Regions from separate parts of the Homo sapiens genome. Here region 2 is linked to region 1. The links come from fine-mapping of genetic effects on gene expression. Tissue or cell type: whole blood. Region 1 holds a variant in brackets; the other region holds the start of a gene. All regions are shown on one strand. Distances are from middle to middle.

Region 1 (5,141 bases):
CACGAGAGAAAGGGGCCACGTCTGGAGTCCCAGGCCTATACCCGCGCCCTGCGCCCGGGGGGTCTGACGTCCGGGCCCTACCAGGGCGAACAGTGGCCCGCCTTCTCTCCGCCCACTTCTGCGCCTTCGGGCCTCCGCTGAGCAGTCCCTTCTTACAGGAAGCCCTCCGGGGGTCAATGGCCATCAGTGTCCCCGCCCCAGCGCGCTTCCGCTGGGGGGCTGCGGCGGGGGTCCGGGTGGTCTGCCCCGCGGGGGCGCTCCGAGGGCTGTGACCCGGCAGAGGCGCCCGCCTCTCCGCGGCCGCCCAGCCGCCCGTCCCAGGGCCCGAGGCGTTCCGAGGGCGGCCACCTCCCGCACCCTCCCCGGGACTGCGAGGTCCTCACCGCACTCGGCCCACATCCCCCTTCCTGCAGCTGGCGAACAGGTCGCTGGTGTCCATGGCGCGGAGGATGGTACCCGAGCCGAACGACCTCGGGCGGCGAAGCCGCGCACCCGGCGGATGTAAACACGCTCAGCCCCGCCCCGCCCCGCTCTGCAGCGGCGTCCGGAGGACCCGCCCGCCCCGGCCTCCCCGCCCCGCGGCCCCGCCCCTGCCCCGGGGTGCCCCGCCCGCCCCGCCCCGCCCCAACCCCGGAAATAAGAATGAGTCAAGAAGGCAGACGCGCTGGGCCCGGCGTGGTCTCCGGGCGGGTTTAATTGAGTCCCGGGGCGCAGGAAGCGCCGCCCGCCGCCCGCGGGGCCGGGGTTCAGGGGCGGGAAAGCGGGGCCAAGGCGGGCTTTGAGGCCTGCCCCTCGGGCGGGAGTGAGGGAGTTGGTCCGAAGCCGCCGTGTGAAGTCGGGGGAAGCGGGAAGGAGCCCGCGCCGAGGGCCAGGCCGCGGGGGCGGCCCGGGTAGGCGCGGGGCTGGTGCGGGCTCCGGGCCGTCCGTTTCGGGGTCCACCTCGCTTGGTCCTGGCGGCCCACTCGGCCTGCGCCTCGGCTGCGCTCACAGGTGCGTGTCCTCCTCGAACACGTCCGAGTCCTCGGGGTCCCGCTTGCCCCCCATGAGCGCCCCCCAGCTCCCCGGGCCGTTGAGGGCCCCGCCGCCGTTCAGGCTGGGGTGCTTCTCCTGCATCTCCGACTGGCTGTCGCTGGCCACGTCCAGCGTGGGGTTGTCGTGGCAGCCGTTCTCCACGAAGCGCAGCTCCTCGCCGTGCGACTGAGGCGGGGTGGGGAGAGGCCATGGGCGAGCGAGCCAGCCCCCGGACAGCGCCAGGCCCGCGGCCGTCTGTGCAACCCCACCCAGGGGGTTCCCGCGGCACCCTCCACAGGTGCCAGATCCTTCTTTTCTGTTGCTGCAGCTCAACTCCTTTCTCAAAATAAACCTACTAGTCGTTGGCACTACAAAGCCCCGTGGCCTCCCTGACGTCATCGATCCCCCAACAGCCCCCTAAGAAGACTCCACTTGCGAGGTGGGCAGGGAGCATCGCTAGGGCTCTGCTCGCTTCCTCCTGGGGAGGCCTCTAGGCTGCTGGAGCCTCTCCTTGATCCTTGGGCACCACCAACGCAGGGCCTGCCTCTGGTGAGGTATTCAGGTGCTCAGGCCCTGCAGTGCCTGCGCCGGAAAGGGGCTGGTGGTGCCAGGGAGGGGCCCCCTGGTGGGGCTAGCAGCCCCCTCACTCCCTGCACCTCTGGCACCTGTCCTGGGGCTGGTGCCCTGCAGAGCAGTCAGCAGTGCTAGGCTGACCAGCTGCTTCACCCACGGGACCCTGTGCGCCCAGGAGAGTCACTGCCTCCCCTTGCAGATGAGGACACCTATCGATGGGCACTCTCCTCTCAACTGGCCCCCAGCCCCACCTGTCCCCACACTCACCACGTGCTTGAGCTTGGGCAGCCGGCGCTGCCAGCAGTTGTAGAGCAGGCCAAGCGCAATGATGATGATGCAGATGGCCCCAATGACCACCAGCACCACGAAGAGCGTGCCGTAGTCGCTGCGCACCTGGCTGGCCCGCGCCTGGCAGCTGCTGGTTGTGGAATAGTTCTGGATGCCAATCTAGGGGTGGGAGGGGCCAGTTTCCTCAGCTGAGGTCCTGGGGTGCCATGGCTCCTCTGGGGTGGTTGCATTGGGCTCGGGTGGGGATGGGGGAGCAGGCTTAGAAGGTGCTGGCACTCCCGGCTCCTGAAGTTCCCTGGCGCCTGGGCTTGCCTCTACCCCATGCCCATCCCGTTTGCCTCAGTACACCTGGAGGCCTCTCCACCCCATGCCCATGTTCCCAGCCTCCTTCACATCCCACCATAGCTTCTGCCCCAGCCGCTGAGTCTGAGCTCACTGTGGCCCTAGGCCTCCAGTGAGAGTGGACCCATGCTGCTGGACACCATCCAACTAGAGAGAGTGCCCACACCTATCCTAACTAGTTAGAGAGACA[G/A]GAGATGTGAGCCCCCCACACATCCTCCACCATACAACCGCTTCCACCTCGGTGGGGAGGGGTGGACCAGTCAGCTTCCTGATGCCAGGGCCGGTGCAGGGAGGGATACTGAGGGCATGCAGGCCACATGGGGGGCCACCCCGGCTGCCCAGCTTCCTCCCTTCCCATGGCGTGTTCACTGCTGGCATGTAGCTGCCTGCATCCCTCCACGCTGCAGGTTGTCATGGTCAGTCCTGCCTTCTCTGGCCAAGGAGATCGGCGCCAGGGGCCAGGCAGGTGCTATCTCCACAGATCAGCATCTTAGCAGAGAGAAGCAGGAGGGCGAGCACCACCAGGGGCTCCTCAGGTGAGGGATCAGGGCAGTTCCCAGTGCTGAGGCCTAGGTTGCACCAGGCCCCCTTTCTGAGTTCAGGTTGCAGCTCTTCCCCGGTTTCTGTGAACCACCCGTGTATCTCCAGTACTTTTCTCAATTTTTTGTTATCAAGGGTCAGTTTTTCTTGCTAGATTCACCTGAGTATATTTCCAAAGACCCAGCATGACTTTTGGCCAAGTCAGTGTGAATTAAGTGACCAGTAACGCCAGAATACTCAGGGGCAGCGAAAAGCAGGGGGAGGACTGTATAAAAGGTCAAGGTTAGCCCACACTTCCACCAGCAGCCCCACTGTTCATGGACCCACGATTCCAGAACTGGGAAGGGCCTCAGTGGCCCTCCAGGCAGTAGAGCAGTGTGGTGAAAGGCCCGGGCTCCGGAATCAGGCTTCCTGCAAAGCCTGGCTCTACCGCTTACTGCTGGTGCCATCTCAGACAGGTCACCTAACCTCTCCCGCTTCAGCTCTCATCTTCCATGGGGACACCATTGGTACTCAACAGGTGCCTCACTTAACCCTCACAACCCCATGGGGTGGTGGCGAGGACTGAGGGAGAGAGCCTTGCACAGTGTGGTGCTCAGTGGGCATTCGACATGCTCACCAGAAAAGCACCACCACCAGGGCCTCTGCTCCCCTGGCATGCAAGGATGAAGAGGCGGCCAGCATTATACCACTCATCTCTCCTGCCAAAAATGGCAGCACCTTCGGGAGTGGAGAGGGCTGATGACAGGGCACTGGACTCTACAGTGAGCAAAGGCAGTTTTGGTGGAGATGGTGGCTGTCCTCAAGAAGTGAGATGAGGAACAGAAGGACCCCATAGGCAAGGTGGTGTGAGGAGCAGGACTGGGGGACCCTGCCATCCCATCCAAGCTTGTGCGGCAGCTGGGTAGGAGAGGTTGATCGGGATGGGCCAGGCAGCCAGCAGACTGCACTGGGTGGGGGCACCTCCTAAGATGGCAGGGCTGCCTCCTGGCCCCCAGGCGCCGCATCTCACCGCAGCAGGAGCGCAGGGCCTGGCCGTGCAAGCACCAGTAGATTCACACGTCCACGCCAAGTCACATGTCCAGGTCTCCCAGGCTTGCTCTTTTGGTTTCTGGAACCCATCATGCTCGCCCCTCCCACCAGGCAGCATGGTGTCTCTGCCACTGTCTACCCAGAAAACTCCCAGTTAACCCTCACTGCTCCCCAGACCCTTCCTCTCTGGGCCCTCTCCTGACTGTCAGCCTCTTAGCACAGCCCCCACACCCCCATGGCCCCTTTCTGCCCCTGGCCATTGCCTGCATTGGACCTTTGGTTGGTAGCATGCACATGCACCGTCTTTCCCACAAAACCATGTCTAAGGGAGGCCTGAAGCAAGGAACCTGCCCAGAGCACGCTCTGTCTTATACTCCTTTGAACCTCACGATGTGGGCAGACTCCTGGGACTTTGAGGAACAGAGACAGGAGGGAGCATATTAGAAGCTAACAGGTCCAGGTCCCTGCACTCTTACCTCCTCCAGGCTCCTGCGGATGTCACCCAGCATGGAAAGGACATCTTGAGTGGGCACCACCCCTGGGGGGTAAGAAACACCACTATCAGTGTGACCATGGCTGAGGTGCGTGCCCCTCCAAGGGCTCTGGCCCCGCTCTCCAACAGCTGGCCTGAGCCTCTGTCTCCCTTCCTGGCTCAAATTGCACACAGATCCTCAAGGCACATGCCTCCCCCTCTCTTAGACATGCTTTCCACTGCATCGATCTGTTAGAACATCGATTTGTATAACACCAGCCAGCCACTTGCGAAGCCCACACACTGCCTTCTGAACACACCCCTTCTCCCCTGCCACACCAGGTACAGTGTCCATTCATCTCCCACCTGTGCTGGACCACACCTGTTCCCCTGCCTCCTGTTCCCCATCCTTAATTCTCACACCCTCCTCCTTGTCCCCAGAACCCAAGCTGGTGGGTACACCTTGACCACTAAGCTAAGTAGCTCAAACTACTGTCCTGGAGTTCCAAGTTTCAAAGCCCTTATGCGTGCACTTTTTTCCCGTGACCCTCAGGGGCCGCCCGCCTCCCACTGCCCTCCTGGGCCCTCCCATCACCTGCCCTCGCTCACCCTGCTCGCCCACCAGTGTCATGAGAAGGTGCTGCTCCTTCTCGCTGGGCTTGCTCAGAGAGATGTGCCAGGCCCCATGGTGGCCACTGCCATGGCGGGGCAGCACCTCTTCCACCAGGGCCAGGAGCTGTGGCCCCCGGTGCTGCCGGAACACCTCCTACAAGGGCAGAAAGAGCCCCCCGTGTTCAGTGAAGGAAAGGGGCTCTACTGAGCCCTCTGCCTCTAGGCCCAGCCCCGTACTCACCCTCAACCCTCTGGCTGTTCCAAGAGAGGC
Region 2 (5,141 bases), 81 kb after region 1:
CATGTTGCGGCCGGGCGCGGTGGCTCACGCCTGTAATCCCAGCACTTTGGGAGGCCGAGGCGGGTGGATCATGAGGTCAGGAGATCGAGACCATCCTGGCTAACAAGGTGAAACCCCGTCTCTACTAAAAATACAAAAAATTAGCCGGGCGCGGTGGCGGGCGCCTGTAGTCCCAGCTACTCGGGAGGCTGAGGCAGGAGAATGGCGTGAACCCGGGAAGCGGAGCTTGCAGTGAGCCGAGATTGCGCCACTGCAGTCCGCAGTCCGACCTGGGCGACAGAGCGAGACTCCGTCTCAAAAAAAAAAAAAAAAAAAAAAAAAAAAACAGCATGTTGCTCCACACCGCCTCGTGTTGTGTGTCGGCGCGCTCGCAGGGTTCGAACCGATACAAGAACCTTACAGAGGGTAGTTATTAGGCCTGGTCACACATGTCCCATGACTTCTACTTCCTGGCACATGGTAGGGTGGCAGTTTCCTGCCCTCTGGAGGCTAGAAGCGGTGGCCAATTGAATGTGCGTGAGAGTGATGTGTATAACTTTCTGGGAGGAACTTGAGGAGCCACTGGATTCCCCACGGCTCATTGTGGCTGTGGTCATTCGTGATTACGCAGGCCGGCATTGCCCAGCCTCTCTGGCGAATATAGAAGCCTAAACTTAGGTATGCACATTTGGGTGTGGTCCAGGCTGGGAAAGTCCCAGAGGATCACAAGGTGGTTTCTTCCCCAATCTCCCTGTGTTTTTAGGACAGGAGCAAGGAGAAGAATGGGACCCAATCTCATTCCAGCCCAGCGGTGCTGTCGCAAGGTGTGAGTCTTGGGGTGCCTGTAATAACTGAGTGCCTACAATCTGCACGAGGCTCTGAGTCAGCCTCAGGATGCTGCAGGGGACATCCTGCAGCTTGGCTCTCTTGGCTCCATCCTCATGACGCTGGAATTCTATAATAGGGTGGGGAGACTGGACGGGGAGGCAGGTAAATGAAAACAATCAGGTGAGAATTAAGATGCTCGGAAGGAAATGAGACTGGACAGCCGCTCCAGCGAGGGTGTCCACAAAACCCTCTAGAGGACATGATGTGGCAAGGAGCCAGCTCTGCGGGGGAACAGGTGTAGAGCCAGGAGCAGGAACAAGCTTGGAACAGCCGAGGGACAGAAACAGAGACCCGCATGGCTTGAGTATGGTGAATGCAGCATCGATGCCAGGGGATAAGACAGGCGCAATCAGGGAGGGCTTTCCAGAGGAACAGGCGTGAAGAACTGTGGAAGTTAGAGTTGGGGAGAGGCGTCCTGGCTGTGTCGCTTCCTCATTGCGCGGCTTTGGTCAAGTTATTTGACCTCTCCAAGCCTCAGGTGGCCCTGTAAAAGGTGACTATAATGACTGCCTAGCAGGGTTGCTAAGAGGAGTGCCCGAGGCATGGCGGCGCCGCGTGGAGCAGGGCGCTGGGAGGCGGCGGCCCTGCGGCGTGGCGCGGCTGGAGCGCGTGGCGCCGGGGAGGGTCCCCGACACGCCTTCCCCCAAGCTGACCCCAGGTCACCCCTGCAGGGCGCCCGAAGCGCCCGCACGCGAGGGGGCGGTCCCCGGAGGCTCCGCCCCGACGGTCCGGCCGCGGCCCAGGCCGGGAGGTGGAGCGCGGCTGCCGCCAGCTGGTCCACTGACAACTGCTGCCAGCTGGAAGGCGCGTAGGGCGAGAGGTGGCGCGTCCTCAGCTTTCCAGTCTTCGATTCCGCCCGCTTTCCGAGTGAGAAACGCAGGCCTCTCTCTTCCGTGAAGCAGCGTCTTGTCTCTGCACCTCCTCTGTGCTGTCTCTTTAAGAGGTCAGCGGGCTGCTCCGCCTCTTGGGAATTTGATTGGTCTCTCCCACTTTTTTTTTTTTTTCCCCCAGTGATGACTTATTCCTATAGGCTGCTGGAGGTTAGAGGGCGGGCCTGAGTGATAACAGGGACTCTGGGACTCTGGGACTTGTGGGACTGTGGCCGTTTTCGCAATTTGGGCTGGACGAAAAAGACGGTCTTGCTTTCCCGGTCGCCGCTGTCGGGAAGGGCTGCAGGGTGTCCGCGAGACCCGCGGCCCGGCGAGCTGACCCCGCCTCGCCTTTCCTGCCTAGCCCTCATTCCACGGAGCCGGTCGCGCCCGGTCCTTGCGCGACGCTTCCCGGCCCAGGCCGCCTGGTCTGGCGCTGGAGGCCGGAGTCCCGCGGCCTGTGCTGGATCCGCGCACACCCAGTGGCGGCGGATGGGCGGCCGGGGCGGCCGGGGCGGCCGGTCCTGAGCGCGGCCCGGGCTGTCAGGTAAGGAGGGGCCTTCTCCCCGTCTCCTGCCGCAGCTAGAGGGGGAGCCCCGTCCCTCGCCCCGGCGGGAAGCCCAGCCGCCGTTCCCCTCCTTGCTCCGCGAGCGGCCCATTTCCGCTCGGGCGCAGCTCGGACGGCCAAGGCGGCGTTTGGGAGGGAAGGCCCTGGATGTGGGAACCCACGGGAGGGGTGCCGGGCAGTCGGGAGTCGCTCGGGGCGCGGGGGCACGCGAGGCCCGGGAGGGAGCCGCACGTAGCGGCGTCGGGCTCGGCCCCGGCTGGAGGCAGTGCGGGTGGAGATCCGGACCTCGGCGACCCGGTCCGGCGCGGGGTGGCGGCACGGGCTCCAGCCCCACGGTGGCTGCCCGCAGCGGCCGAGGTGCTCCTGAGCCAAGCCTGCCGCCGGTTCGGGGCTTTGCTGCCCCGTGAGGGGGCCATGTCGAAGCCTCCGCTCCCTCTGGACTCGGGGAATGCAGGTGGGGGCTGGCTTTGCCCTCTTCTCTGCAGTGAGGAGGGGCCGCAGGGTCGTCCAGTCCCCAGCGGGGCTTGGCGGTGCTGGAGATTCAGTTGTTCCCGTCATAACAACCTGTTGAGGGCTCGTGTCGTGCCAGGCCTTGTTCTAGGGGACCGAGTCCTGAGCACTCCCGGGATAGAGAGTAGTAAATACCCAGACGCGGCTCGGGCGCTGGAGACAGCTGAGAAGGGAAGGCTTCTCAGAGGAGGTGTCAGGAGAGAGCTGGGGGAGAGCCAGCCCAAAGGCCCTGAGGAACGGACCAGCTCAGCAGGTGGAAGGCAAGCAGGGAGGGCAAGGTGCAGGTCAGATTGGGCCCAGGCCTCCCCATCTTACTGGGGTCTCCGGCTTAGGACAGGGACCACACGCCTGCCAGCCCCAAGGCCGAAGGACAACAGGGGAGAGCAAAGTAACTTACTTGGCCTCTGCCCTATGGAGCCTTCCCCACCTTGTCACCCCTGGGCTCCACCCCTTCTCACCACCCTTAGGCCCTAGGGTTTGTAAGCTCAACAACCCGTCGGTGTGGGAAGCACTGAGGGCCCCTCTCCCCAGGGTTTCCTATCCGGTAGCTGTGGGTGGGGTTTGGTCAATCCTGTTGCACAGATGAGAGAGCAGGGAAAGCTGAGTCCCAGAGAGGAGAGAGAAGGCCTTACCCAGTCGTTCTCAGCGGGTCCTGCATTGCGTGACCATGACCTGAGCCTAGCCAGCATCCTGTCCCTCAACTGGGTGGGAGGGAGGGAGGCAGAGGCCCCTGGAATGTTGTGAGTCTGGGAGACTCCTCCCAGGTGGAAGAAACAGTCTGTCCCAGTTTCCCTGTTCCTGGGAGGCCTGGGGTTGCCCAGGGTGCTCTGCACCGCAGGAATTCCTCCTCTGAGAATCACCCCTGGGCTCCACCCCTTCTCACCACCCCTTCTCACCACCCTTAGGCCCCTATCGTGAGCTGACCAACCCCTCCCACTTCTTTGTCAGTGCTTGGGAGCATCAGTCTAAGAGAACTAAGTAGAGAAGGCTGAGGACTGACCCCTTCTCTGCCTCTCCTCTCCTCTGTATAAGGGGACAGTAATTGTCCTCTCTCCCTTAGAAGGCGATGCCATTGTTAAGTGTGTCACCACGTGTAAAGCACTGAGCACCATGTCTGCACATAGGAAGTGTGCATCCTATTAACTAAAAGTCAGTGCGGGCCAGGCGCAGTGGCTCATGCCTGTAATCGTAGCACTTTGGGAGGCTGAAGTGGGTGGATCATCTGAGGTCAGGAGTTTGAGACCAGCTTGGCCAACATGGTGAAACCCCATTTCTACTAAAAATACAAAAATTAGCCGGGTGTGGTGGTGCACACCTGTAATCCCAGCTACTCAGGAGGCTGAGGCGGGAGAATCGCTTGAATCCAGGAGGCGGAGGTTGCAGTGACCCAAGATCGCACCATTGCACTCCAGCCTAGGTGACAAAGCGAGACTCTGTCTCAAAAAAAAAAAAAAAAAAAAGTCAGTGCTTCAGTTATTTCCTAAGCTTTGATACGTAATGGCAATCCTGGTATGGCCAGCAGCCCCATAACCCCAGTGTGGTTGCTGGATCAAGTAGCAGCAGCAGGGGCACCACCTGGGAGCCTGTGGGAAACACAGACTGTTCAGCCCTACCCCTGCCCTTGGGAGCAGCATCTGCATGTTAACAACACCAGGGTATTTCCCACATCAGGTCTGAGAAGATAGCTCTAGAACAAGCCTGGTGCTCTTGACCCACAGGTGGAGAAGCCGAGGCCTGGAGAGGGGCACCTGGCAAGTTGTTGACTGGGGGCCTGGGCTCTGGAGACAGACAGCCTGGATTGCTGGCCTGGCAAGTGGCTGCCCCTCTGAGCTCCACGTGCACAATGCGGATAACATAAGTACCTCCCTCCCAGGGTTGGAGGCCAGGGCTCAGAGGTTAGGCACAGAGGTTACTACGTTGTTGGCAGGGGAGTGGGGGCAGGCAGAGCAGCTGACACCTCCTCTGTGTTTCCTCAGACCCCACAGCAATGGGGGCTTCACAAGAGGTCCATGGACCTGGGAACCAATTCCTTTCCCTCCTTGCCCTTCAGTCTCTTCTCTGGTAATCCCAGCAACTTGGGAGGCTGAGGTGGGAGAATTGCTTGAACCCGGGAGGTGGAGGTTGCAGTGAGCCGACATCGCGCCACTGCACTCCAGCCTGGACGACAGAGCAAGACTCTGTCTCAAAAAAAAAAAAAAAAAAAGAAAAGCAGCAACCACCTTTGTACATGTGTCACTTTTGTAGATGTTTACATCCCTGGTTTTGTTTGATCCTTACGGCACCCTTATTAGGCAGATGTTGTCCCCATGATACTTGGAGGGGGAGTG

The links. PIP is the estimated chance that this variant, and not a neighbour inherited with it, causes the effect.
Region 2: TPRA1 starts here. The variant in region 1 is fine-mapped to the expression of TPRA1 in whole blood (TOPMed, PIP above 0.99).

What each region holds. Positions count from the first base shown.
Region 1 is chr3:127,668,324-127,673,464 of GRCh38, reverse strand. It overlaps PODXL2 (podocalyxin like 2), which reads right to left. Exons shown (of 8, transcript NM_015720.4): 5 at 4,868-5,024; 6 at 4,263-4,324; 7 at 1,852-2,031; 8 at 663-1,197. The coding sequence ends at 985. It overlaps ABTB1 (ankyrin repeat and BTB domain containing 1), which reads right to left and starts at 513. Exons shown (of 12, transcript NM_172027.3): 1 at 384-513. The coding sequence starts at 439. RefSeq lists silencers at 142-401, 542-1,141, 1,152-1,231. The variant G/A (reference allele first, on the strand shown) is at 2,405.
Region 2 is chr3:127,587,552-127,592,692 of GRCh38, reverse strand. TPRA1 (transmembrane protein adipocyte associated 1) reads left to right here and starts at 1,960. Exons shown (of 11, transcript NM_001136053.4): 1 at 1,960-2,283. RefSeq lists silencers at 1,308-1,637, 2,138-2,607 and enhancers at 2,341-3,017, 3,018-3,695.